2 separate regions of the Homo sapiens genome follow, and region 1 is linked to region 2. Evidence: fine-mapped expression QTL. A gene starts in region 2. The other region holds a variant in brackets. All regions are shown on one strand. Distances are between the middles of the regions. Region 1 overlaps LZTR1 (leucine zipper like post translational regulator 1). Region 2 holds the start of P2RX6 (purinergic receptor P2X 6).

Evidence for each region. PIP is the estimated chance that this variant, and not a neighbour inherited with it, causes the effect. A credible set is the group of variants that fine-mapping cannot tell apart.
Region 1: its variant is the best candidate, but not a certain one, in a credible set for the expression of P2RX6 in gastroesophageal junction (GTEx, PIP 0.81).

Annotation. Positions count from the first base shown.
Region 1 is chr22:20,993,305-20,995,906 of GRCh38, forward strand. LZTR1 (leucine zipper like post translational regulator 1) reads left to right here. Exons shown (of 21, transcript NM_006767.4): 12 at 358-450; 13 at 620-715; 14 at 800-965; 15 at 1,254-1,423; 16 at 1,566-1,722; 17 at 2,442-2,568. Among named protein-coding and RNA genes, the nearest start is that of THAP7-AS1, 7.3 kb to the right of the region's middle. The variant C/T (reference allele first, on the strand shown) is at 1,321.
Region 2 is chr22:21,013,401-21,016,400 of GRCh38, forward strand. P2RX6 (purinergic receptor P2X 6) reads left to right here and starts at 1,765. Exons shown (of 12, transcript NM_005446.5): 1 at 1,765-1,938; 2 at 2,542-2,692. The coding sequence starts at 1,775. It also overlaps the pseudogene TUBA3FP. RefSeq lists an enhancer at 645-794.

The DNA of each region.
Region 1 (2,602 bases), 20 kb before region 2:
AGCTTCCTGGAGGAGGTTGGGATGTGCTGGTGGGGGCCAGTGTGAGGACGCAGGTCCAGGCAGAGTGGAGACGGCAGAGCTCTGCTGAGGCCTGGGGCCCAGCCGAAGGCAAGAGAGGCAGGGGAGCCCTTTCCTGCTGTGGAGCCGGCCGTGGACAGTTGCAGGTGCTGAGGCTGGAGCCAGGCTGTATTTTCAGGGTGGGGTAGCGGCTGCTTCCTCTCCTCAGCCAGGCCCACCTGCCTCCTGGGCCCTGAGGGTCAGCATGGGCCAGGTGGGGACCTCAGGGTCGGCCTGCACAGCCACACTGGGGCCACCCTGCTGTCTGCAACATCTAGTCTCACTGGGCCCCTCTTGCAGTTCTCCTGTTACCCTAAATGCACGCTGCACGAGGACTACGGGCGGCTGTGGGAGAGCCGCCAGTTCTGCGACGTGGAGTTCGTGCTGGGTGAGGTGGGTGCCTGTCCTCGCACCCTGCTCTGCCTGCTGTGCCTGGGCAGTGGGAATTTCGCCCCTCAGAAAAACAGCTGCTGGCCTGGTGGTGCTGACCTTGGCTGGCTGGGTCTCTGTTCTCTGGGGCGAGGGTCCTGTGCCCTCTGCCAGTGCATCATTCTTTGTGCAGAAGGAGGAGTGCGTGCAGGGCCACGTAGCCATTGTCACAGCGCGGAGCCGCTGGCTTCGCAGGAAGATCACGCAGGCGCGGGAGAGGCTGGCCCAGGTGAGGTGCCTAACCGCCCTGCCCTGACCTGGCAGCCATGCCTGGTGTCCACTGGGGTGTCCTTGAGCTCCCTTCTCCCCACAGAAGCTGGAGCAGGAGGCCGCCCCAGTTCCCAGGGAGGCCCCCGGCGTGGCTGCTGGTGGGGCCCGGCCGCCCCTGCTGCACGTGGCCATCCGGGAGGCCGAGGCCCGGCCCTTCGAGGTGCTCATGCAGTTCCTCTACACCGACAAGATCAAATACCCACGGAAAGGTCCGCCTGGGTGGGGGTGGAGCAGGGTTGGTGTGGGCTGGGGTGCGGGCAGCAGAGCCAAAAGGTGGGTGCTGCCAGCCCTGCCTTACTGATGGGCCCCCTGAGGCTCAGAGGCTGCAGGTCACCCTCCTTACCCATGATCACTGCAGCTGGACGCCATCTGAGTCCCCCGAGGCCTTGTTCCTACCTAGTGGCCCCAGCCCACACTCTTCCATGGGGGGAGCCCTGCGCCCTGTGCCCTGCCCTCCCCTCTCCGGCTCCCTGAGATTCGGGGGCTCTGGGGCGCAGGCCATGTGGAGGATGTGCTGCTCATCATGGATGTGTACAAACTGGCACTGAGCTTCCAGTTGTGCCG[C/T]CTGGAGCAGCTGTGCCGCCAGTACATCGAGGCCTCCGTGGACCTGCAGAACGTGCTGGTTGTGTGCGAGAGTGCCGCCCGGCTGCAGCTGAGCCAACTCAAGGTGTGGGGTGGGGTCAGCGCAATCAGGGTTGGGTGGGGTGTGCTCAGGCTTAGGCCCCCTCCCTGCCCACCACTGTGAGCCCCTCGCCCAGCCTGGGGCCCTGGCTTGACTCTGCCTGCCTGCCTGTGCCTGTCTGCCCCAGGAGCACTGCCTGAACTTCGTGGTAAAGGAGTCCCACTTCAACCAGGTGATCATGATGAAGGAGTTCGAGCGCCTCTCCTCTCCACTGATAGTGGAGATTGTGCGGCGGAAGCAGCAGCCGCCCCCTCGCACTCCCTTGGACCAGCCAGTGGACATTGGTAGGGAGCCCCGTTCCCCTTCCCTGGGGGCTGGGAGGGATGGTGTTCATCTGCGGTAGGAGATTGGGAGCCATGGAGAGCACCTGCCAGGCCCTCGGGGTGGGGGTGGGTGCCATGGGACCCCAGAGTGCTCTCCTGGGTACAGGGAGGAAACAGATGAAGGCAGAAGCCCCCGACCCATGGGGCTTGCCACAGTGGGCTGTGTCCTGGTGACCTGGGATTTCCTGAGCCAATTTCTGGGGGTGGACATGGGGCACCTCTTTCGGGCTAGGATGTCAGGTCTGATGGCCCAGGGTCACGGTGATCAGTCTCTGGACTTCTCTTTGCTTGTAATGTCACAGGCCCCTTCATTCCCCCAGCTCTCCCTGGGGCTTGTGCTGACCCCGGTTGCTGGCTCTTGGTGATGTCTGCAGGCACCAGAGGCCATGCAGTGGGCCTGGAGGGGGCTTGATCATGAGGTCAGCGAGGGGGTACAGCAAGCTGGGTGGAAGATGAGACGCTGGGTGGTGGGCTGTGCGTGGGGCATAGTGCTTGAGTCGGCCAGGGCGCCGAGGGAGGACAGAATGTGGCTGATGGTACCTCAGGGCGAGTGAGGCCTTCTGCCTGGGTGAAGTTTTGTTCAGGGCAGCAACATGGGCAGATATGCAGGAAGGTAGTGCCGTGGGGCCCCAAGGCCAGAATCCCAGGCTGTACCTGCTCAGGGACCCTCCTACCCCCAGGCACATCTCTGATCCAGGACATGAAGGCATACCTGGAGGGAGCGGGCGCGGAATTCTGTGACATCACTCTGTTGCTTGACGGGCACCCACGGCCAGCCCACAAGGCTATCCTGGCCGCCCGCTCCAGGTGGGTGGGGGCTGGACAGGAGGGGAGGGTGGGC
Region 2 (3,000 bases):
GGACAACCTGGGCAACATAGCGAGATAAAAAATTATTTAAATTAGCCAGATGTGGTAGCCCCCTGTAGTCTCAGCGACTCAGGAGGCTGAGGCAGGAGGCTCACCAGAGTGCAGAGTTCAAGGATGCAGTGAGCTATGATCCTGCCACTGCACTGAAAGCTGGGTGACAGAGCAAGACCCTGGCTCTAATAAATGAATACATAAAGTCTCACAGCTAGTGGTAGCTAATCCTGCCAGAGTCAGGCCTCTACCTGTCTGATGACAAATGGCACACTATGTCTTTTAACCTGATTGCAGACCACAAATGTTTTGTGAATATTTTCCCCAGGGAAAAAACCGGAAGTAGTTCTAAATTCTATACATCCATTATATTAGTTTTACCTGTGGATTGGGAAAACCCAGCTCTGATTGCATTTCAGGGCGGGACAGCCTTTGGTGCACTGTCTGGCGGGATTTTCCATTTTAACCTCCTTCTAGAAGCGCCTTCTCATGGTAAAGTTCCTGATGCCGCCAGGAGCGCCGAGGAGAGGGCAGGGGGCTGGAGACGCCCCGCAGAGGGCTACGTGCCCTGCTGGACAGAGGTCTCCTGCCTCCTCGGCGGCGCCAGCCCACCTCCCACAACCCCTGCGGGAGAAGCCCCCAAGGGGAGGAGACGGGCCTGGCCCCTGCCCCGAGCACCTTCCGTCTCTAGGTCGGAGTCTGAATCGGCCTTGGGACCCTGCTTGGCTTCGGGGACCCCTGCAAGACGTCCACAGGCCGCCGTCGCCTCTTCCTCCTGCTTTTTATCCTCCCCAGACCTCTGGCAGGAACCGCTCATCGTTACGCCCCTTTCGCAGCCTCAGACCCTGAGGCGGAGACCGCTTGGCGCCTCACTTAGAGCGCGACCCGGGGATGTGGGCGGAGTCTGCGGCTGCGCTGACCAATCGAGTGTGGCGTCCATCGACTGGCGTCTGCCACGGCAATTAGCGACGCGCTCCCCCGCGGCGGTCGCCCCGGCAACCCAGTGCTGTAGGTTGCCGTAGAAACCGTGGCTCTCCTGCGCTGAGGCTCCTCGCCTGAGAGGATAAACTGCACGCGCCACGGGCTATGCACTGGGCTGGGCGCCTTGTGGGCATCCTCCCTGCCTTCCTAGGGGGTTCCAGCATCGCCCCCCTTTCGTGGACTGGGAAACACGCCTGACTCCAGGACTTGTGTTGTCCTCACTGCACTGGGGAAGGTGGCGGGGGCAGCTTTTCAGGAGGGCCTGGGGAACTTCGCAGAGCCAGGTCACCCTCTCACTCTGTGCCTCTTAGTTATCTTGCATGCTCTGGTCTTTGCATACGCTGCTCCCTGCACCAGGAACCTCCATCCCCATCTTTGTCTGCTTGTCGAACTTCAGAAATCTGCAAGGGTCAGCTTAGAGGTCACTTCTTCCGGAAGCTTTCCTCAACACCCTCCCCGCCCTGCTGCTGCTGCCCTCAGGCCCTCCTCTCACAGCACTGATAACAGCTGTCCGTCTCCACCCTCCCACCACCTCCACTCCCACCCCAGGAAGTGAGGCCAGAGGGCAGGGACAGAGCTGCTGCTGTTCTCTGTGTGCCAGGGCCCAGCAAAGGGAATGTAGGGAGGGTGGGAGGTGCAGGGCAGCTGGGATTAGGGGTTGAGGGCTGGGTGTTGGAGGCTGGATCTGGATCCTGCTTTAGTGGAAGTGTCCCTTTAACAGCAACTGGCCTGGCCTGGCTCGGGCCCTGCTTTGCCTCCTGTTCAGCTGCGGCTGCAGCTGCCATGCTGACTCATGTGCCCGCAGCTAGCAGGAGCTGGCAGCATGGGCTCCCCAGGGGCTACGACAGGCTGGGGGCTTCTGGATTATAAGACGGAGAAGTATGTGATGACCAGGAACTGGCGGGTGGGCGCCCTGCAGAGGCTGCTGCAGTTTGGGATCGTGGTCTATGTGGTAGGGTAAGAGAGAAGAGCTTTTGGCCAGGCTGGAGGGGCAAGGGAAGAGGTGGGGGGTGGGGCTTGGTCCTGCTGGGTTGAAGTTGAGGGTTGGGCTGTTTAGGGGCTGGAGTGGAAGGGGGCAGATTGGGACGGGGTTGGGGAGAGCTAGGCGATACAAGACAGGAGAGCAAGAACAAGCTGTGTGTTTGTCCTGTGTGTCCACTTGCCTCCTTCCCAGGCCCCCACCCAGGCCCCACCCAGGGGGCACATGACATAGTCCTTAACATCTGTGAGAGCTGGAGCACTAGGCCCCCAGAGAGACCACCAGCTGTATCTCGGGTCAGGAGAGTCTGTAAGGGGGAAGCTGGATCTAGTCAGGCTGGGGGTGGGTGCTGGCTAGTGAAGGTGATTGTCTGAGGGCATTGGCTCTCTGATGCATGGCTGGAGCTTCTGTCTCATTCAGGGGGTCTGGAGTGGGAAGTGGGGCCAGAGAGGAGGTGGGGCCTTCGATGTTGGGCCGGGAGCCTGTAGGGTGTGGGGGGAGAACTGAGCATGTAGGGCTCAGCTCCGCCCCTGTCACTACACGCTGGGGACACACCACACTGCCCGACTTCTCCTCCCCAGGTGGGCTCTCCTCGCCAAAAAAGGCTACCAGGAGCGGGACCTGGAACCCCAGTTTTCCATCATCACCAAACTCAAAGGGGTTTCCGTCACTCAGATCAAGGAGCTTGGAAACCGGCTGTGGGATGTGGCCGACTTCGTGAAGCCACCTCAGGTGGGGGCCCTGATGTTGCTGACGGGGGCGCAAGTCCTTTCCCCACTGACAGCCTGAACACCCGCCATGCAGCCAGTGTGTGCGAGAGAGAAGCATGTGATGCCAGAGACGGCTGCGGGTTCTCAGGAAGGGCTTCACAGAGGAGTGGCACCTGGACAGGACTTTCAGGGATGTGTAGGAGGTTTTGGGGTGGAAAAAGGGGCCACTCAAGAAGCCAGGCCAGGGTTGGACGTGCTGGCTCACGCCTGTAATCCCAGCACTTTGGGAGGCCAAGGCAGGTGGATCACGAGATTGAGAGTATCCTGGCT